2 separate regions of the Homo sapiens genome follow, and region 2 is linked to region 1. The links come from fine-mapping of genetic effects on gene expression. A gene starts in region 1. The other region holds a variant in brackets. All regions are shown on one strand. Distances are from middle to middle. Region 1 holds the start of PSD4 (pleckstrin and Sec7 domain containing 4). Region 2 overlaps PSD4 (pleckstrin and Sec7 domain containing 4).

The links. PIP is the estimated chance that this variant, and not a neighbour inherited with it, causes the effect.
Region 2: its variant is the best candidate, but not a certain one, in a credible set for the expression of PSD4 in fibroblasts (GTEx, PIP 0.50).

The regions. Positions count from the first base shown.
Region 1 is chr2:113,168,691-113,181,674 of GRCh38, forward strand. PSD4 (pleckstrin and Sec7 domain containing 4) reads left to right here and starts at 5,281. Exons shown (of 17, transcript NM_012455.3): 1 at 5,281-5,364. It overlaps LOC124907872 (a long non-coding RNA gene), which reads right to left and starts at 7,078. Exons shown (of 2, transcript XR_007087197.1): 1 at 6,580-7,078; 2 at 2,658-3,335. RefSeq lists enhancers at 3,623-4,123, 4,124-4,624, 4,854-4,923, 4,974-5,143, 5,764-5,853.
Region 2 is chr2:113,205,326-113,214,756 of GRCh38, forward strand. It overlaps PSD4 (pleckstrin and Sec7 domain containing 4), which reads left to right. Exons shown (of 17, transcript NM_012455.3): 17 at 1-4,066. Among named protein-coding and RNA genes, the nearest start is that of PAX8-AS1, 26 kb to the right of the region's middle. RefSeq lists a silencer at 6,867-7,161. The variant C/T (reference allele first, on the strand shown) is at 4,173.

The DNA of each region.
Region 1 (12,984 bases):
AACGGGGAGAGGCAGGTCCCATTCCCTTTAGTACAGTCTTGAAGAGAGGCTGAGCAACCTTTATTCATTCATCAAATGGCTGTGGAGCAATTGTGAGCCAGGCACTCCGCTGTAAAGCACATGGGCCAGTCCTTGCCCTGGAGAAGTTCATGGTCAAGGGGAGGATGGGAACCCATAACTAAGCCAAGCGGCAGGCCTGGACTTGGGGAAGGGGGAAGATCACTGGTGCCTCCCTTTCAGCCTCAGGAAACCATGGATTACCAGGAAGTCTGGACGGGACGGGGCAGAGCCCGAACTTGAGGAGGTGACACTTCACCTCTTGGTCTCCTGGCTTCTGCCTCCGCATCTGCTGCCAACCCCACTTGTCCATAACCTCTGGCCATGTTCAATATAGATCACTTTCGCTTCTAATCTCCTCCACTTTTCAGCAGCAATCAACCAAGCCAACCACTTCCTCCGTCTGAAGTAACCTCCTCTTGTCTTCTGTGACAACATGGCTCTCCCCTTGCTTCTCTCACCTTTGTGACAGTCCCTTTTCAGTCTCCTTTGCAGACCTGTCCCCTCCCATCCCAGGTAGGCACCACCTTCTCTCTCCAAGCTCAGATGGGCTCCAGGTGCGTTTTTCAGTTGCCTACTTGAAATATCTCACAGGTAGTTCAAATCCAATATTTAAAAATTAAACTCTGGGCCGGGCATGGTGGCTCAGCCTGTAATCCCAACACTTTGGGAGCCCAAGGTGGGCAGGTCACCTGAGGTCGAGAGTTCAAGACCAGCCTGACCAACATGGAGAAACCCCGTCTCTACTAAAAATACAAAATGCGTGGTGGTGCATGCCTGTAAACCCAGCTACTTGGGAGGCTGAGGCAGGAGAATCGCTTGAACCTAGGAGGCGGAGGTTGCTGTGAGCCAAGATAGCACCATTGCACTTCAACCTGGGCAACAAGAGCGAAACTCCATCTCAAAATAAATAAATAAATAAATAAATAAATAATAAATAAATAAATAAAAGTTAAACTCTGGATTTTCTCCCCTGAGCCTCATCTCCCAGTTCTTTCCTATTTCAGGAAATGCCATTATTACTGCCCATCTGGTTGCTTAAGTCAGAAATCTGGAAGTTGCCCATGACTTCCCCTCCCATCTTGTCCCCTCGAATATAATGAAAGAGCAGGTTCTATAATCATCCCCCATATGCATTCCCAGCCCTATGCCTCTCTTCTTTGCCGTGACTGCCCCAGCCAAGCCACTCTCCCCCATTGCCTGGACTCTCACAGAGCCTCCTGACTGGTCTCCTTGAACTTACGTAGCCTCTACCATCTCTTCTCCATACAGCAGACAGGTCCATCTATTCTCCATATAGCAGATGGATGATCTTAAAAGTAAATACACAAATACTCTTTGACCTGTCATTTCTCTGCTTTAAAAATGCACCCTGGGGGTCAGGCATGGTGGCTCACGCCTGTAATCTCAGCACTTTGGGAGGCCAAGGTGGGCGGATCACCTGAGGGCAGGAGTTCAAGACCCAGCCTGGCCAACATGGTGAAACCCCATCTGTACTAAAAATACAAAAACGAGCTGGGTGTGGTGGCACACATTAGTAATCCCAGCTACTCGGGAGGCTGAGGCAGTAGAATCGCTTGAACTCAGGAGGTGGAGGTTGCAGTGAACCAAGATCTCGCCATTGCACTTCAGCCTGGGAGACAGAGCAAGACTCCATCTTAAAAACACACAAACAAACAAGGCCAGGCGCTGTGGCACATGCCTGTAATCCCAGCACTTTGGGAGACCAAGGTGGGCGGACCATGGGGTCAGGAGATCGAGACTATCCTGGCTAACACGGTGAAACCCCGTCTCTACTAAAAATACAAAAAATTAGCCAGACATGGTGGCGGGCCCCTGTAGTCCCAGCTACTCTGAAGGCTGAGGCAGGAGAATCGCTTGAACTCAGGAGGTGGAGGTTGCAGTGAGCCGAGATCGCACCACTGCATTCCAGCCTGGACGACAGAGTGAGGCTCCATCTCAAAAAACAAACAAACAAAAATGCACCCTGGGCTGGATATGGTGGCTCATGCTTGTAATCCCAGCACTTTGGGAGGCCGAGGCAAGTGGATCACTTGAGGTCAGGAGTTTGAGACCAGCCTGGCCAACGTGATGAAATCCTGTCTCTACTAAAAATACAAAAATTAGCCAGATGTGGTGGCAGATACCTGTAATCCCAGCTCCTTGGGAGGCAGAGGCAAGAGAATTGCTTGAACCTGGGAGGCAGAGGTTGCAGTGAGCTGAGATCATACCACTGCACCCCAGCCTGGGTGACAGAGTGAGACTGTCTCAAAAAAAAAAATGCACCCTGTCTTGCCACTGGGGTGCCTGTGGGATCTGGCCCTGCCCCTCCTGGCCCCATCTTTTCCCACACCCCCTGGGACCCTGGGACTGCGCTGCACCACACTGGCTTGCTTTCTATTCCCTGGAAATGTGGAGACATTTCCCACCTCAGGGAAGGAATTAGAAGCCGAAAATGCCCTTCCATACTGGACCCTCCTCACCAGGACATGGTGCAGCTTCAGAGACCTTCCCGAATTCCCACGGCAGTGTGCTCACCCTTGCTGCTCTCTTATTTCTCTCTGCTTCTTCCCAGGCATTCTTCACAATTTATGATAAAGTTTGATTCATAAGTCCGATTGTTTATTTTCTTTCTCTGTCAGTAGACTGGAAGCTCCCTGAGAACAGGAGTTGTTCTGCAGTAGACAGGCCTATGCAAACCTACCCCAAAGTCTGAGGAAGTTGAGAAGTTGAAGAAAGAGGCTGAGAAAGCTAGGGGACTTTCCAACAGAAGCCATGTAGGTGTCTCAGGCGGCAATGAGATGAGATGGTGGATCCCCGCATTAGCACCCAAACCCAGGGCTCATATACCATAGGGTAGGAGTGGTTCAGATGGGATTTATAAGACAATTGAAGTGTGATATCATCAAGGTTGTTTGACCTACGAGTAGCACTTACGGACTTACAGTAAGTATCTGCTCTTACACAGGAAACAATAGATAAACTGGAAATTGTAGAGGCCCTGCCTTGGAACTGGGGTCACTCAGTTAAGTCAATGTGGCAGGTTAGCTTCCAAGATGGAGTTGCTTCAGCTTCCACAGGGGTCATGTGTTTTATTCCTGATAGGTCAGCGGCTTGTAGCATAGAGCCTGCACAGAGCAGGTGCTGACTTTGAGCCTTGGCCATGTTCCGGAGACACCCCTAGCGGCTGGGGCCCAGAGTGGAGGGTTTGCATTTAGGTCTTGGTGACTTCAGGTTTCTGACTTACCCAGCTTGATGGAGAGAGAGAGTTGTAAAACCTGAAATATATGAGGAAGAAGAGCTTGGAGAAGAGAAGGAACCAGGTTTGCCTTATAAACATTGAGTTTGAAGTGCTGGTGAGATAAGCATGTCCCCAACATTTGCCAGCCCTGGGAAGTGGAGAGTGGAGGACCCCATCTGATATGTCCAAATACATGAAAGTTAAGACTAAAGCTCACAAACTGTCATATAAAATGTGTCCTGCCGGGTGCGGTGGCTCACGCCTGTAATCTAGCACTATGGGAGGCCGAGGCGGGCGGATCACCTGAGGTTGGGAGTTCGAGACCAGCCTCGCCAACATGGAGAAACCCCGTCTCTACTAAAAATACAAAATTAGTCGGGCGTGGTGGCGCATGCCTGTAATCCCAGCTACTTGGGAGTCTGAGGCAGGAGAATCACTTGAACCTGGGAGGTGGAGGTTGTGGTGAGCCTAGATGGCATCACTGTACTCCAGCCTGGGCAACAAGAGCGAAACTTGGTCTCAAAAAAAAAAAAAGTGTCTATTCTCCTAATTCTCCTACCTCCCACTTTCATCATGGCCTGGAGCTCCAGGTTTGAAGGAGGATTCTTAGCCGCCTCTGAATGTTGCTGCCACAGCACAGCCCACCCCAGCCTTTGGCCCACGCCACAGCTCCACCTCCCTTTCTCTTCCCCACCCTGCTCTGTATCACACGTGCATGTGGGTGGGTGACCTGCCCAAAGGTTTGAGCTCTCTCTACCTGCTCCCGTCTCTGCTATCAGGACTCTTGCCAGCGCTTCACCCAGTCTCAGGCTGCATAGGGCAGCGGTGCTGTGTGCCCACATGGGGAGGAGGCCATTTGGGCCCCAGAAGTGGAGAGTCTCGGGATCTGGGGCACGCAGAGTGTGGTGGAGAAGCAGGGTGCACGGGCTCCATGTTGGTATGTTCCTGTGGACTCTGTACCCTGCAGGGAGGGGTGCGGCTGTAGGTGAGCTAGAGCCCGACCCTCTCAACTCTGGGTCAGGGTGGCTGGTCCCCACTGCTGTGTGGACATGCAAGTGAGGGAGTCTCTGGGTCAGCTGGAATCATGAAGACGAGAGTTCAGGGAGGGTGGGAGTGGTGGAGCCTCAGCAGAGAAGTTGACGGTCATTGATGTTGAGGAAGTAGATTGTGTGGAGGGAGGAGAATGGCATGGTGTTTGCGCTCCCCACCAGCCTCACTTACACTTGTGGACACTGCGGCCGGTGTCCTGAGGACGTGTGTTGGGAATTCAGCCACGGGGAATGGAGGTCCCTTGGTTCATATAGTCACAGGCTCTGTATTCTAACCCCAGCTTTGTAATTTTCCAGCTGTGCAACCCTGGGCAGTGGCTTAGCATCTCTGAGCTTGCCTCCAGATCCGGATCTGTATGATGGGGTTATTAATGCTTCATAAAGTAGGTGTGAGGAGGGATTGAGGTACTATTGGGAGAAACTTTGTAACTAAAAGGCAATTGTATCATTTGCATTATTACCAGTGACATGAGACATAGTCACACAAAAATTGAAATGTCATTTGTTTTAAAACCAGAAATTGCCCAACTTAGGGCCCTCCTGTCTCTCACTGGGTGCCCTGCAGGGGACCAAGAGCCAGAGCAAGACTGAGAACCTGGGGCAGAAGCGCAGGGAGGAAGGAGGTGGGGCCTGCTTACCAACCAGGCCTCGGCCCCTTCCCCTTTCAATCCCAGGCCCCTGCATGGCAGGGAGAGGCCAGTTCCACCATGGCAGGTTCTTTCTAGGCTGGTGTGCAGGGTGGGGGCCTCCAAGGAGCAGGGGCATGGGGAAAGGGGCTGCAGGCGCTGGGCCTAGGAAGAGAGGCTCTTATCTTGTGGGCAGGAAGTGTGAGGTGTTGAGCAGCTAGGGAACCCTGGGGAGGCGGCGGGGAGCAGGAGGGGTGTGTGTTGTGGTGAGGAGGAGCGGAAGTCGGAAGCTCCAGCCGTCACAGCCACATTCACTGGGCAAGCCGACTGTGAGCCAGGAAGTGCTCTTGGGGAGCCCAGGCCAAGCCATCCATTCTTGGGTCCTTTGGAGGTGAGCTAAGTGGGTCTGCCTAGGTTGGGGCTGGTGGAACCTGTGGGAGCAGGGAATGTGGAGAGTCACATGTGGGTCCTTGTGGCAGGGGCTGGGGCAGGTGGGCAGGGGAGAGGCGAGGGCTCTGGCAGTGCCGTGTGCACCTGCCATGAGCCTGGGCTAGGCTAGGCCCCTCCTTCCCCCTTCCTGCTCTGTGTCCCGTCCCCCTCCTCCCTCAGCCTACCCCTCCTCATCTGACCCTTCTCTGATTCCCTGCCCTGGCCCCACGGACCTCTGTTGTTTCCCTTCCCTGGCTCCCCGCAGAGCCTCTGGAGGTCTGCAATAGTGAAGGGTGAAGGAAGCTCCTTGCTAATCCTCTTGTGAGTGTCACTGCGTCCCCAGTGACTGCTCTGGCTGAGTACCCAGTGGGGGCTTTTGTGGCCAAAGGTCCCAAGTGATTCTCGACCCTAGACTCTGGAGAGAGGGAGTCTGGAAGGCCTGGGTTTGGGGTGGGGGTGGCTCTGGGTGTGGTTGCTGCAGGAGCTCAGAGTCAACTTGGCCATCAGGGGGCTCCCAGCTTCATCTTGCCTTCCAGGACCATCCTGGAGAAGCTCGAGGAGAGGTAAGGGGACCCTCCTTACTGGTTTAGCTCTGGCTTAGGCCTGTTGTCCTGATGGGCAACAGGAACCACTGAACTCTCAAAGTGTGCCTGTGTAGGAAACTAAGGCCCACTGTAGTCATTATTGTTATAGTGAAGGTAGCTGCATGGAGGGAAAGTCCCCTGACACTGCCATTCCCCCCTTATTCCAGGGCCTAAAATTCCACAGTTGAAGTCACTCCTCTGCTAGAATGCAGGGAAGGGTGGCCTGTCATTAGCTGATGATAAATACTCCTCCGTTCATTGGACCTTGGACCAGCTTTAAAAAGTGGTCCCCAAGCAGGCCTGTCTCCCAGCTGCCTAGGACTCTAGAGCATCCCGTGGCCCCCTCCTCCTACAGACAAGGAACCGCCTAGCATGGGGATCAGAACACAGGCTGCTGAGCTCTTTGTTGGGGAAGGGGGAGAGACCCACAGAAGGGGTGAGGGATGTGGGGTGAGAGGACCCAGGGAGGAGAGGCCCAGCCTGGCCCCAGCCCCCTAGGGGTCTTTGTCCTCCCCAGGCAGCAGCTGTACTGGGTCCCCTTTGTCATTCTGTCCCTACCCCCGTGATCTCTCCCCTGGATACTCTCTGCCTACCTCAGACCGCCATCCTCTGCTCCCTTCCTGAGCCTCTGCTGGCCTCACCACAGGCCTTCAGTAGCACTGTCTTCTCTCTCTCTCTCTCTCTCTGTGTGTGTGTGTGTGCGTGCAAATTTGCATGATGGCTCTTTCTGTGTGGGCAGGATGTGGGGCCTTCTCGAGTCATTTCTCTCACGGTGCTTCAGACCCCAGGTTCAGACAGAGGCCTCTGTCCTGCAGCTCCAGGCCAGGGAGTTCCACTCATGGTTCCTGCCTGCAGCAACATCTGTAATTCGGCAGCTTCTCGGGCTGCAGAGGGACAGGACAGGTCACCTCCTAAGTCCTTGGACCGGCCAGAAGCCTTCATACCTTTTCCATAGGAGGGAAAACATTTCCAGGGTAAAAGGAGGGAGCGTTTGCTTGCTGAGTCTGGAAGCTCAAAAAGGGAAACAGAGACAGGCACCCTCCGGATGAAGGTTCAGGGCTGACTCCTTGAGGAGGCTGAGAGCTGAGCCTGACCAGGAGGGCTATTTGTTTGTTTTTGTTAATTTTGGCTTCTCTAAATGGACAGCAAAACAACAAAATTAAACTGAGCAGGACACGGTATTTCCTGAGCACCCACCAAGGGCCAGGCCCAGCACTCAGACCCATTCCAACTTTACAACAAACCTGTGAAGTATAGCTTTATTGGGTCTTGGTTCCTTATTTTACAGAAAAGGAACCAGGTGGAGTTTTTCACCCAGAGCCACATGGCTTGTCAGCTGTAGAGTTAGGATGGGATTCTGCTCTGCATTCTTCACTATGACCCTGAAGTGGGCAAAGGAGGGTGGTCAGTGCAGGGCACCCAAGGCCATCACCTTCCTACTCAGGGCAGGCTCATACCCCAGCCTCTGTGCCCGGTCTCCCCGTTCTTCAGCCAGGGTACAAGGCTGCAATGCCAGGCTGAGGGTGAAAAACAAACTCACTGTTAGAAAGCACCGTCCGGGTGCCAGGTGTCAGCTGGGTTCCTTCCTGCCCCCTTGGGTCAAAAAGAAATTGCCTTGAAGCCGGGGGTGGGGCAGGTGGGAGGGACTCTGCCTTCTAGTCCCTCAGCCATTGCTTTCTGTGTGTTTCACCTCCCACAAGAGGGACATAAGGCTTAGCCCTTGCAGTATTCTCCATGAGAAACATACACCCCCTCCCCACCGTGGTGAAGATTCTCTGAAATGTAGTCAGCTGTGCTCAAGAAGAGTGGCTGGTTGGCAGCAGAGTGGAGCAGTGCTCTCTCTTCCCCACCTCGGCTCCCTCCCCTCTGAACCCTCCTTAAACTTTCAGAGCCACCTCAGAGCTCAGAAAAACTGAAGGGCCACTTTAATGTAGAGGTAACAGAACTCAACTGATGTGACAGGTGGCGATTCCTTTGCTGCGAATTCCTTTCCTTCTGCTTTCGTTCTGGTTGGGATAACAGACAGGAGATTTCAAGAGAGATTTTGCTAAACACCAGGGGTGGAAAAACACAAGTAAACCAAGAAAATTTTAGATGCGTAAGACCTGGGCTCTGCTGCCCAGTTTCTGGCCTGCCTCTGCCTAGAGGGTGCCATCCTACCTCAGGGATCAAAGGCTAGTTCCATCCTCCACCCTTCTGAGATCAGACCGCCCTCACCTGGGTGACCGGTAGGACTGCCTTTTTGGCCTTAGGAGGTGACTTCACCTTTTAGGTCATCCTACCTTTCCATTCAGGCAAGAGCAATTAAAAAACAGAAGGAAGACATCTTTTAAACACACAGTTACACAGTGCCCCCTGCACAAATGGAGAGCACAAACAAGACAATTGAATGGGTCCTCCTTTCTGTTCGGGTTGCTGCCTGGGAGCCAAGACCCACAGGGACATTTTGGCTGCTGACCTGGTAGGAACCTACCTCTGGGGGAGCACTGCCCTTGGAGCACTGGACTTCCTGGAGAGGGGAGGATGAGGTGATTGGTCATGGGCAGACTGGCCCCCGTGGGGAAGCCTTCATATTATAATGATGCTAATTCTCTTCTCCAAGCCTCGGTCTTCCCCGTCTTCTGGCCTGGTTGTTGTGGAGGGAGAGTTCTGAGGATCCATCCCATCAGTGTGTCTCTCCATTTGTCTGTCCATTCATCTAGCCATCCCCTCTCTTATTTTCACAAATGTTCTACAACGCCGACTCTCAGTCAAGGAGGCGCTGTACAGGAGTTTGAGTGACTCAAGTGAATTCAGGAATGTCCAAGAGAATTGATCAGTGGGGCAGGAGGAGAGAATGATGCTTAAGAGAGCTGTAACCTGGGTTCGCACACCAGCTCAAGTCACAGGGGGGCCTGAACCTCTTACGTCAACGCTAACCTTTAAGTTTCTAATCCACTTGAACTAAACCCCTCAAGTCAATGCTGATCTTTAAATTTCAAATCCAGTTGAACTAAAGTATGCCCCCAGACCTTGTGGGTCGGAGTGGTTGACAAATCAGTTACATAATGTGACTATGCCATTCAATATTTTCATACTGAGACACAGTGGCGAACAGGAAACATAAAGAACCTGCCATCTTGGTGCTTACCTTCTAGGCAAACTAGAACCACGCGGGTAAACACACTGGCAACTACACACCGGGATAAACGCTCAGAAAGTAAAAGCGAGGGGTGGAGTATAGTCACATTGAGTTTAATTGGTTTAAAAAGTCATAGCCGGCCAGGTGCTGTGGCTCATGCCTATAATCCCAGCGCTTTGGGAGGCCAAGGTAGGTGGATCACCTGAGGTCAGGAGTTTGAGACCAGCCTGATCAATATGGTGAAACCCCATCTCTACTAAAAATACAAAACTTAGCAAGGCATGATGGCGGGTGCCTGTAGTCCCAGCTACTTGGGAGGCTGAGACAGGAGAATCGCTTGAACCTGGGAGTCAGAAGTTGCAGTGAGCTAAGATCATGCCACTGCACTCTAGCCTGGGTGACAGAGCAAGATACCGTCTAAAAAAAAATGTCGCAGCCAGTCAAACTACATGCCTTGTCCCCACTGAATACCTGATCTGTCTCCACCCTTCCTGTCTCCATTGCCTTGGGCTCCCCTCCACTGACCAGTTCCTCACCCCCACCCCTCCCAGGCTCCTCAGGTGCTGCAGGCCCCAGAGATCTGCTCTCTTCTCTTTGCTCGGAAAGCTGCTGCAGCCTCTGGTATTTATTTTTTTTCCTCTGAAAAAACCCAGCAAGGAACGCTGGTTTTTTTCTGGGAAGGCAAGTCCAATCCTCACTTGTATCTAGTATCAGCATTAGCGTGTACCTAGAGGGCTGCTTTATGTACATATACATATCTATTTGCAAGTACATATGTGCAAAGAGAGACAAGTGGGGTTTCCTCTCATCTTATGAAAAATTCAGGATGTCCTTTCTAGCAGGCCCAGCCCCGCATTCCCACTCCCATTCCCATATTGGCACGGGAACGTTTCTTGCCAAGTGAGTTGACTGATGGTGAGAGAAGGTGGGTTGGCGTTATCCTGGCAAAATGCTCTGGGGCTCATAGGGCCATGAGGCTGGCACTCATTCAGGTACAATGTGTGGAGTTGGGTGAATGAGAACAGGAGAAGGGATCAGGGATTTTGCATGGCAGGAGAACTATTTGGGCCCAAAGACCAGGACTTTACAGAGACGTGGAGGGTGGCTTTGGGGTCTGGGAAGGGAGGCAGTTGAGTAGAGCTAGGGATGTCCTATGTTCTGGTACCTGTAAACCAGGTGCTTCTCCCCAGCTTTCCCCTCTATCTCTAAATAAACATGTCTTCCTAGTCATTTATTATACCCCATGGGCTGGTGTCTTGAGGAGGCGCAGTGGGATGTGGTGGGGTGAGTCACCTCCTTGCTCACACTCGGTTGCTCTCCACCAGGCAGGTTTGGGGAGGGAGATTTGGGGTCCAGGGTGTTTTCCCTAGTATAGACAATAGATCCTGAGGCTCCTCATCCCTTCTGCCTTAGAAGTAGAACCGTCTCAGGCCTCTTGCCCAGAGAGCACTGAGGGTGACAATGGGCAGCTGCATGGGGAGCAGAGAGTGGTATGGACTTAAGGAGTAAACCATACAAATCCTCTGCCTGTTACCTGGAGGTAGTGGTGGGAGGTGGAGAGGCAGAACCTAGAATGATGAGTGAAGGCTGGATCCATAGGAGAAGAATGAAAGGCAAGACTGTTAATGGAAAGGGATTCCAATCCAGACCCCAAGAGAGGGTTCTTGGATCTCGTGCAAGAAAGAATTCAAGGTGAATCCATAAAATGAGGGCAAGTTTATTAGCAAAGTAAAAGAATAAAAGAATGGTTACTCCATAGGCAGAGCAGCGCTTGGGCTGCTGGATTAAGGATACCCGTATCTTGAGCCGACCTCTTATCTCATCCTGTGACTTAGAATGCCTAGCTTCCCGGGAATGCAGCCCAGTAGGTCTCAGCCTTATTTTACCCAGCCCCTATTCAAGATGGAGCCACTCTGGTTCAAACATCTCTGATGAGACCAAATCTGGTCCATTTGATTCAGAGCATCAAGTACAAGATTAAACATAAGAAAGGGCCTCTCCTCTCGGAAAGTCAGCCTGTTGGGGAGGCTGCCTTAACTAACAGGTGGAAGGGCCCTGAAGGCCGGTCAGGGACCATTCCGGGTGGGCTGGAACATCAGAATCCTGAGGGTGTCATCCAGCAAGTCTAGATTCTTGTTATTCTAAAACAGGAATGCAAGGGTTGGGTCAGAGGGAGGGGTAAAAACCCAGAAAGAGATTTCTTTTGGAGGCACTTTTAGAAAAAGGATACTTTCAAGGTGAATAAGAAACTGAAATGCATACTGGCCCTCCTTCCTTCTCTCAGGTGCCCTCCAGAAAAAAGGCGTGGGGCAAAGCAATGTTTTCTAGGTGACCTTGAATAACAGCTGGACCCCCTGACCTTCGTGAGAGAGCGCTGAGGGTTACCATTTACTGAGTGTCTAACAGTGGGCCAAGCCTGGGCTGAAGGCCGCGCGAATCACCTCCGTTAACCCTAGCTCCCCACTGCAGTGGGGCTCCCAGATGCTAAGGAACTTTCCAGGCTTATCCACTCAGTTGTATGTGGCAGGACGAGGGTTTGAGCTGCAGTCCATGTGGCTATTGATTCAGCTTATGTTCTCTAGTGCTGGGCAGGGAGGAGCTGACCCCCATGGGTTTGTTATGTGTGCTGGTTAGGGCCCTGCATGCCAGTCAAGCTCCTGTCCTACAGCCTGCCTGTGGGAGGATCTCAGTGTGAGGTCTGGAGCCCTGGACGAGGCCACCTGGGCTCACTCTCTTCATACTGGAGCAGGGAAAGGGCAGAGAGAGCTGCAGACCGGAAGGTGGATGGTCTGGGGTCGGAGTCCGGCCCCTGTCACCAGCTGTGAGTCATTAAGCCAGACTCAGGCTAAGGCTTCCTCATCTGTTAAACAGCGACACGCAGGGGACTGCTCATCTTTCAGGTGCGAGGTTGGGGGAGTGGTGGGTGGGGACAGGCATGGTTAACTGCATGTGGAAGGGGCTGTTGTTCTTGGGTATCTGGAAGTCACACGTGGTTATAAACTGGGAGCATGTGTGTGTTTGTTAATAGTCTTGCTCCCCAAAATATTCTAATATAGCTCACAAGCACGCACGTAAGCCTTCAAGATAGAAATCTGTGAGTGAAGAAAATGAGGCAAAGGGAAAATAAGAAAAGACAGCTGCTGGGTGCAGCGGCTCACACCTATAATCCCACCACTTTGGGAGGCCAAGGTGGGCAGATCACTTGAGGTCAGGAGTTCGAGACTAGCCTGGCTAACATGGTGAAACCCCATCTCTACTAGAAATACAAAAAAAAAAAAAAATTAGCAGAGCATGGTGGTAGACGCCTATAATTCTAGCTACTCGGGAGGCTGAGGCAGGAGAATCGCTTGAACCCAGGAGGCAGAGGTTGCAGTGAGCCAAGACTGTGCCGCTACACTCCAACCCGGGTGACAGAGCGAGACTCTGTCTCAAAAAAAAAAAAAAAAGACAGCTGCCAGGGGAGTGCTTACGACATGCCATAAGGACCTGTGTACTTGACCCTGCACTTCCACTTTGTGGAGAGCCAGCACCATGAGACAAACAAGTTACAAGCTTCACAGTGTGCTTTGGATCAAAACAAGCCAGCTATTCTGAGGAAGCAGGGCTGCTCTGAGAGCCGTGTAAGCGGTGGGCTGCATGCAGGGGATGGAAATGCATGCTTCTAGAAAACACCCTGCGAGGTTCCTGGGCTCATCTGATAAGGGCCCACCCAGAGTGTTAGTGCAGGCTGTGCACACAGCAGCTCTGGGCAGATGTGAGGCAGTTCCAGGCAGACATGGCTGCCACATCCCAGCCTCTTCCTCCCTAGAAGGCAGAGATCTCCTCCCCATGCAGCAGGCAGTCTGCTGGGTGGTAGGCAGCAGGGCTGAAGCATCCT
Region 2 (9,431 bases), 35 kb after region 1:
GGGATTTTGTTTTAAGAAGATGAGCTGGGCGCGGTGGCTCATGCCTGTAATCCCAGCACTTTGGGAGGCTGAAGCGGGCGCATCACCTGAGATCAGGAGTTCGAGACCAGCCTGGCCAACGTGGTGAAACCCAGTCTTTACTAAAAATACAAAAAATAGCCGGGCATGGTGGCACATGCCTATAATCCCAGCTACTCAGGAGGCTGAAGCAGGAGAATGGCTTGAACCCAGGAGGCGGAGGTTGCAGTGAGCTGAGGTTGCGCCATTGCACTCCAGCCTGGGTAACAGAGCGAGACTCTGTCGAAAAAGAAAAAAAAGATGAAATGCCTTGAAAAAGTAAGGCCAATGGGTAGGGTCAGAATATGGCCTGCAAATGCACTGTACTATTTGTGTAACTTATATGTAAATCTGAAATTATTTCAAAATAAATACAAAAAGAAAAAAAGGCAATATCCCAGAACCTTGTGAAAACCTGGCCGTAGCAGGTCCTTTTTCCTCCTGCTGAGCTGAGCAGGCATGCTCACAGATCCTCAAGGTTTCTTGAATGGCTACTGTCCTCCCCACTGGCCCCTCTGCCAACACCTCTGCCCCTCAGCTTTTCTGATGCCCATGCCCCCTCACCAGCTAACTGTGGCTTGCACCTTTACCTGTTCCCTTCATTTTCCCTTCTCCAGAGGAAGAGGTGCTCTCCACAAGCCTGTGACCAACTGTTCCCCTCAGCCGGCACACTGGCTCCTCTTCTCCTGCCTGCCACAGACCTCTCTCCTTCATGGGCCCACTGGGGCTCTTTGAGCCTATTCTCTACCCCCTTCATTATCATGCCTTGCAAACACCATCATGAGCAAAAATCAAAGCTGGTGTTAGACTCTCTTGCTTTCCATAGCTGACCCTGGCTTCCCTGCTTTCTGTGATGAATTCACGGTATGTGTGGGCTTTGCCAACTGTTCCCAGCCCTTACCAGGTTCCCATTCATACCTGGCTCTAATTCACACCTTACAAATCGGCGTCCACCCCACCTTTGCCTGAAATGGCACCTCCTAGGGCAATTGATGGCTGCAGTCATCAACTCTGATGCCTTCTCAGCCTTCTTCCGCCATCACCTCTCAGCGACCTTTGGCCTTGATAGCTATGTGATCATCTACCAGACCCTGCACCCAGGCTCAGCCTGATCTTGCCCCAGTGGCCAGGCCCTTGAGTGGGACTGCCGGGAATTGAGTCCAGCTTTTCTAGCCATCTGACCGTGGCCAGTTAGCCTCTTATGTTCTGTTTGCTTCTCTATAAAATGGGGATAATAACACTACTTATGTCACAAGGTCCTCATGAAGATTAAGTGAAATTATGCACGTAAACATCTCAGAACAATGCCTGGCACAGAAGGGACACCTGTGAGGTTAGCTATTAATTCATAGCCTCACCAGACTTACCCCACGTCTGCTCCCCTCCTCCTTTGGGCTCTGGCTTAGGCTCTGCCCTCATGCATGCCATCCTGCTTGGATGCTGGGTAGCTTTGCACTTGGCTCTGCCTTGGCCTGCAAATAACAAATCTGAGCTCAAATGAGCTTTAGCAGAAAAGGACTTTGATTGGCTCCAATAGCTGAATAATCTGTATCCAGGTCAGGTGAGGCTTCATCTCGGGCTTCACTCTGATTCAAGGCCCCTTTTCTCTCTTGTTCTTTTGGGGGCTCCATCTCCCAGGCCTATGAGCAGGAACAACCCTCATGCTTCCAAGATGGCCCCAGGAACTCTCAAGATCCATTTTCTTGGTGCAAATATAGCAGAAAGTGACTCTCTGCTTCCTGGAAGTTTCAAACTCAAATCCAGGAATAGTCTCCTGTAGCAGCCTGCCTTGGGCCGTGTGCCCATATCTGAGCCAGTCACTAGAGCCAGGGGTTTAAGGAGATCAGAGTCCACTTCTGGAGAGGATGAGAGTGAAGTCAGCACCACCAAAACATAGGGACCAGCTGTGGAGAAATTGTGAGTACTGGAAGGACAGGATAGGAGGAATGGATGATGGGGAGAAAACCGACTAATATGCAGATGCCCTTTCCTCCAAGAGGCCTTCCCTAAGTCTTCCTCCTTCAGTTTCTATTACATGAAACTCTGTAACTCTCCTCTCCTCTCTCCTCTTCTTTTTTTTTTTTTTTTTTTTGAGATGGAGTCTTGCTCGGTCGCCCAGGCTGGAGTGCGGTGGCATGATCTCGGCTCACTGCAAGCTCTGCCTCCCGAGTTCACGCCATTCTCCTGCCTCAGCCTCCCGAGTAGCTGGGACTACAGGCGCCCGCTACCATGCCCGGCTAATTTTTTTGTATTTTTAGTAGAGACGGGGTTTCACCGTGTTAGCCAGGATGGTCTCAATCTCCTGATCTTGTGATCCGCCTGCCTCAGCCTCCCAAAGTGCTGGGATTACAGGCGTAAGCCACCACGCCCCGGCCCTCTTCATTTCTTTTTGCCTCTCTGCTTCCAGAGCAACATAAACTCCCTGTGGGCAGGAACTGGGATTGTTGATTTCCACTGCTTCCCCAGGGCCTGATATCTAGAGTCGAAAGAATGCACATCTCAAAACTATGTCCTGGTTCTTTTTCTACTTTCTTGCATATTCTTTTTCAGGCAGGAGTGCAGTGGCACGATCTCAATTCACTGCAACCTCTGCCTCCCGGGTTCAAGCAATTCTCCTTCCTCAGCCTCCTGAGTAGCTGGGATTACAGGCATGCACCACCACACCCAGCTAATCTTTGTATTTTCAGTAGAGATGGGGTTTCACCATGTTGGTCAGGCTGGTCTCAAACTCCTGACCTCGTGATCCGCCGGCCTCTGCCTCCCAAAGTACTGGTGCATATTCTTTTTCTGTCTTTCCTGCTACTCCCTCTTGCTCTTCCCACCCCTAAACTATGTAGCCTCAAAGATCTTACCTGGCTGACTGCTGGGCTTTCAAGATAGTTTCTGGAAGAAGTCTCTAAATCTAAGCCTTCAACTCTCATCTCTGTTCTGAATTTCAGACCTGGAATTCTAACTGTCCACAATACATGGCTCCTCAATATATCTTCCTGAAATTACAAATGACCATACGGTACAGGTGTTACTATATTACCTGTAAGACCACACTCGGTGTCATCTCCTGCAAACTAGTCCTCTCCTGACTCCTCTGTTTCTGTGAGTGATTCTGCGATGGCTTGAGGTCATCCGTTTGCTTTGAAAGATCACACACCAGGATACATACAGAGATGTGACCCGGATGGATGGACCTTTGCCTCACAATCAGGGTAGAAGCCTCTGGTTTTCTTATTTCTTTGTCCTCCTCTGTGGTGTGACACAGGTTCAGGAGGAGGTACCCAGACACAGAAGAGATGCTTTCCCTGTGCAGGCTTGCTGACAGTCTTGCCCACCACTCCTGGCCTCCTCCCTCTACATGTCCACATTCGCTGCTCTGACCCTGAGTTGGACCCAGCTAGGAATTGTGACTTCAGTTACTAGTATTTCCTCTGAGCCTCTAGTCATGGTCATGGGCTAATCTGTATATGAAAACCCACTTGAAAGAAATCCCAGTGCTGAAGAAAGAATTGAAACATACAGATCGTTTCTTTGCTCAAGGGAGTGTGGATTTCAGTGCTCTCACTGAGCAGAGGCTGAGGGTGACCACCTTGGATCTTCCTGCAGGACACAGCCCAGAGAAACTGAGCCTGAATTTGCTGCCATGTTTTGAGGACATTATCCACGCTAGTCTCTTTCATCTGGGCCGAGGTGGGTAATTTTCCTTAGAGTCAAGTACTAGAAAAAGTTTTGCTTCTTCTAAGAGCTGGTACATTGCCCTCTTGTGAATGAGAGCCATGTATGTGACCACAACACCCTTTCAGTTGACCACTAAGAGACTGAAGGCCAATTCCGGATCAACTTTACAGCCGCCTACGGCCTGCTATACCACCCATGGCATAGTTTCTGTGGTCTGATGCTTTATTTTTTATTGCATTTTACTAATTTATGGCATGCATATCATATGAGCAGTCTCAAATCCTCCCCAGAACAAGGTGAGGAATATATTAATATTTAAAATAAAATAAACAAAATGTCAGTGTGTGTGTGTGTCTTAGGCTGGAAATTCCTTAAGGGCAGGGACCATGTCTGTTTATATAGCACCTGGCACAGTGTCAAATTGAGGCTTAACACATGAATTTTGA[C/T]GAAGAGCAGAAAGAAGCTGCAGAGACTTAGGCCTCATTCTCCCACCGATAGTCATCCAGACCAGTGTCCCCTTCCTCATGCCTGACGAATCCTTACCCCACTCCTAACCATACAGATTCACTCCCCACAGTCTACCTGGTCCTCATACCAAGCTCATACTCGCTCACAAACCCAGCCACACCCACACCTGCTCAGAGGTTCACCCCAATCACCCAGCCCACCCTTTCACCCACTGTCCCCACCGCCCTGCAAGCCCGTCCCAGGCTGGGCAGCCGCGTGTGGTGCTAGGAAATGCCACTGGCATTTGAGGCGTTTGAGGTGCTGTCCCCACACGTGCCTTGGCCCTGTGGGGGCCTCCAGCCAGGCGGGGACCTGGGAGAGGGAGGGAGAGGATAAGCCGCTTCGAAACTCCAGATGCAGCAGTTAAAAAGAGGACAGAGGCAATGATCCTTCAAATTGCCACATCTGTATAATCTGCCTTTTATTTTCTGCTTCATGAAGTTTTATTTCCTATTATTTATTCACCTCCCCGCCCTCCCCTCCCCCGCCTCCACTCCTCCTTAGCAGGCGACATGCTCAGATGGGCCCTGAGCCTTGGCCCGGGTCTGGGTCCACCCCCATTCCCTCCCTGGGGCTGGCTGCTGGGAGGAGGCACCTGCTCCCCGCTTCTCTGACTCCCTATCTTCTACTTTCCCTCCCTTCCTTGGGACATTTGGGTACTGCATCCCCCCATCATTGTGTTTCAGCCTCTAAAGTCCCCTCCCTCCATCCTCCAAGTAGACCTCTGAGAAAATGTGTATGCATCATAGGGATCATGGAGGTGAGGCCTGTTCCTAAAGCCTGTATCACTGTCACCTCCCCCAGCAGTCCTAGAACTCACAGCCAGGTGATGTCCCTGGCCCTCTCCTTTCCTCTGCTTGCCATTTCCCACTCTCCCCACCCTGGACCCTTCTCTCCCTTTTCTAGTCCTCCAACCTGTGGTTGAGGAGCTGGGCTGGTCCACCCTGGGTGCAGGGGGCTATCAAGATGGGAAGGAGGGGACCAGCCAGATGTGCAGGGAGGGGCAGCCTGTAGTCTGTTTTCAGGCCTTGGGTACCCACTGCCCCCTTCCCCACCCAGGTGTAAGAACAAAGCAGCAGCTCAGAGAGAGACCCAGGCCTTCTGGTTCTAGGCTTGTGGTCCGGTTAGATAGGTTTGGGGCAAGTCTGGAAGACGGCGGTTGGAATGGGGTGAGAGGGTATTTGGGAAAGGATGCTGATGATGTTTCATTTCTTCCTTGCCCAGCACCGCCTTACTCCTCCCAGACACAGAAGCATAGGAGGCCAGGGGAGCAGCCTTTTTCCAGGAAGACAGGTCGGACTTCAGGCTTGAGGGTTAGAGTTTGCAGTTGCTGTTCCTAGTGGCTGCTTCTTGGAGAAGACAGTGATCCCAGATAGAGGCCTGGGATGACCATGAGGGATTTTGCAAGTATTATCTGAAAACCAACAGTATTTTGTATTTTATGTGCAACTGTCTTCTGATGTTCACTTTCCCACTTTGCTCTATAGTTCTGTACAAGTCTCGTTTCTTAAGCTGTTTTTTGTTCGTTTGTTTGTTTTTGTTTTTTTTCCCCTTGGGAGCTGGGAGGAGTCCTTTTGGGTTCATCTTGTTTTCTCCTGGTGCCTACCAAAGGGAAACGTTCATAGCAGGTAGTTCATAAAAGACTTCTGAATAAATGAATGAATGAGTGAATCAACTAATGTAAGGGCTATAGCAGAATCCTCATGCCCCAGCCTATACTAACTGTGGCTAGCTGGCTGTCCTCTGGTTTCTGCCCCATCCTGGAATTTTTTGGAAGCCTGGCTTTAGCTCGGCAAGCTGAGTCAGGACCCAAGCTCCCATCAGGCAGGGTGGGGCACCAGAAGCCGAGCCACTCCCACCCCAAACACAGAGCAGATTCCAAATATGGAAATATGGTGTTTGCCTGATGGAAAATTCCCGGGGAAACTTTGGAGAAAGAGGGCTTCATACCTAAACCAGTCAGATGAGGCCCTCAATGCTTGTCACTGACCTGGGTCACTACTGCGTCACAGCGTTGAGCTGGACATTTTTCTGGCTCAAGCCATGCATTTTACAGTTGAGGTAAGTGAGCAGTCTCCTGGGGTCGCCAGAAGGGAAGGGACAGAAATCCGGTCACAACCCTACACTCCAGGTCTGGGCCCTTTTAGCAATATCCCTCAGCCAATCTCTCCCAGGGGGAAAACAAAGGCAATAACCAGGGGCCGTGTTATTATGATATGATAACTAACAAAAGTTTAATAACACCAACCAGTTCAGCCCCTGGAATAACAGACCAGGCCGACCCTTTCCCGCTGCCTCAGCAAAGAGGGTGTTTCTAGGGAAGAAATGGCTATACTTTGCAAGTAAACACTTTCATCACCTTCATGACGACAAGAGCTCCAGGCCTTGTTCCTGCCTTCTTTCTTCCTCCTTGTCTGTTTCTCTTCCTTGTTTTCCTCCGGTGGGGAAATGAGTTTCCATTCTGACCAAGCTCATCTGTTTTAAGGATAATTTCTTTCCCGCTGCAGTTAAGTCTTCTGGGTGCTCTCATTTCCCCAGGGGGATGGATATATGTGGGGGTATTAATGCTACCCACAGCTGGGGGCCTCCCCACTGGGTTCCTCTAGGAGGTGAGGACAGGGGAATGATGTGACTTTGGGGGGAGGATGAGAGGGCCTGGACTGTGAGGTCCCAATCTGTGCTCCTAGCAAGGGCTGTCTGTGGCTGTCAGTGAAGCTTGCTACCAGGCCCCCATCTCCAGCAAAAAAAAGCAAACAAACATAAAACAAACAAAAAAGACGGTATTTATAAATGAACTTGTCTCTCACTGGGGCGGCTCCGGGCGTCTGGGCAGTAGGCGGATAAGCCTGCGCCCACGAGGTCGTGTTCAGGAGCAGGAGCTCGGGCTCCTGAAACTGGAGGGGAGGGTGCCTTGTCTGGGGGAGGTGCCTTGGCTTCAGGGAGGGTGCCTTGGCTGTGGAGAAGGCAGGAGAGAGTCTGACGGGAAGAAGACCATGGAGGAGGAGGGGAAGTGGGGGGGTCTCGGAGGGGGTAGGGGAGGGAGGCGCGGTGGGGGGGTGTTGGCTTCATGCTGTTACTAGTTTGATTTATCCCTAATGAGTTCTCAGCACATGGCTGCTCCCGGCTCACTCCAGGGGCCAGCCGGCCCGCCCCGACTCTGCAGCAACAGCAGCAGCTCGCTCAGAAAAGAGCCAATTTCCACACTGCACAGTCCGCTTCACTCAGGGGGAAATCACATTTCCCCGGGAGAGCCGCAGGCAGCGCTTCCCTCCACAGCCTGGCTGGCTGCCACCGGGCACAGATGCCAAGGAGCTGGGTCCCCCACCTCCCCTTCCCTCCCCATCCAAAGCCCCTCTTGCCACCTTCCAGGAGGCCTGAGCCCCTCCACCGTGGGCCTTAGCCCCTGCTGCTTCTCAAGGGTAGGAGAAAGAGCGAGGTCAGGGGAAGGAGAGACCTGTCCGCCCTGTCTGCCTGCTCCAGCTTCTTGCAGGAAGGAGAACCAGGCACCCTCCTTCTATGTGAAGGGCATGGAGATGTAGGGATGGGGTTGGTGACAGTGGTGTGTGCCTATGAGAGTGGGGACTCGTGGGGACAGGCGTCTGCCACCCAGGAGGTAATGACCTCCAGCGTCTGTGTCCCAGTGGTCCCCAAAGAGCCGCAGGAGCTGTAGACAGTAATGAGAAGAGCAAGAAGCCAAGGAGAGGGCCATGGGGCGAGGGCGATGGGGAGAGGACAAAGGGGAGAGGGAGATGGGGAGAGGGAGAAGAGGGGAGGGTAATGGGGAGAGGGAGAAGAGGGGAGGGTGATGGGGAGAGGGAGAAGGGGAGAGGGTGATGGGGAGAAGGTGATAGTGAGAGGGCACTGGAGAGAGGGAGGAAGGATGCTTCCTGGCATTTCCTGAGGAGGTCAGGGACTCCGAGCTCTCCCCAAACATTCCCTGTCTCTTTCCCTCATTCATAGCCCTGGAGACACGAATGTCTCTCAAACAGTCGGGAAAGGAATAATTGCTGTAGACTCAGTAGAAAAGGAAAAAAACTAGAAAACTAGAAGAAGTGAACAAAGGAAGGAGATAGAGGTGAGAGAGAGGGAGTTTCTTCCATGAGAACCATAGCCATGGCGGCTCGGTCACTTGGCGTCAGAAGGTAGCACAGCAGCCTGGGGCAGAGGAGCCACCAGCTCCTTTATGGAACATGGAAGGCTTTATGACCTTAAAGGTTAGAGAGGGGCTGCCAAAGGGCACCCTGAAGGGAGATTTAGGGCCAAGGATGGAGGGAAGTCTGAGATCAGCCTGGCACAAATCTGCCTGGTCCCAGTGCTTCTTCAGTTGAGCTCTGGGCCTTGCGTCCAGTCACGCTTTGCAGGGAGGGGCAGCAGAAGTCACTGTGCCCCAACTGGCCAAGTGACTTCTGCCGCCCCTCCCTGCAAAGCAAAGAGTGTCTGACATCTCTCAGAAGCCTGGCCATATCCAGATATCTGAGGCCTGACAATAGGATGCAGACTAGGCCTTGGATTAGGGGTAAGGCTGTGGTCCCTGCTCCTCTGCTGACTCGCTGAATGACCTTGAAAAAGTCAAGTTATCTCTTGGTCTCAGATTCCCCAAGTGCAAAATAAAAGGGGGCCAATATTCAGAATCAGAGATGTAAATGGATGTGAATGGGCTTTGTATGGAAAAAGAAACTAAGCCTGTGGAGAGGGTTATTACCACTTCTGAGGCTGAGGCAGGACAGAGATGCTGTTAAGCTGTGGGTGCAGGAGCTGCCTAGGAGGGAGCTCAATCCCTCCCTCCCCGCGGCCTCCCTCAGTCCTGATTGACAGGACTGATGCTGACGCCCAGGCCCAGTAGTAATGGCGTTGAGGTCTGCAGTCCCCTTCCTCTGGTGCCCACCCCCAGAGGACAAGGAAGTGTGAATTATCTTAAAGAAGGCTCATGGGTTTTTGTTTTGTTTTTGTTTTTTTTTGAGATAGAGTTTTGCTCTGTCACCCAGGCTAGAGTGCAGTGGTGCGATCTCAGCTCACTGCAACCTCCGTCTCCAGGGTTCAAGTGATTCTCCTGCCTCAGCCTCTTGAGTAGCTGGGATTACAGGCATGCGCCAACATGCCTGGCTAATTTTTGTGTTTTTAGTAGAGACGGGGTTTCACCATGTTGGCCAGGCTGGTCTCAAACTCCTGACCTCATGATCCACCCGCCTCAGCCTCCC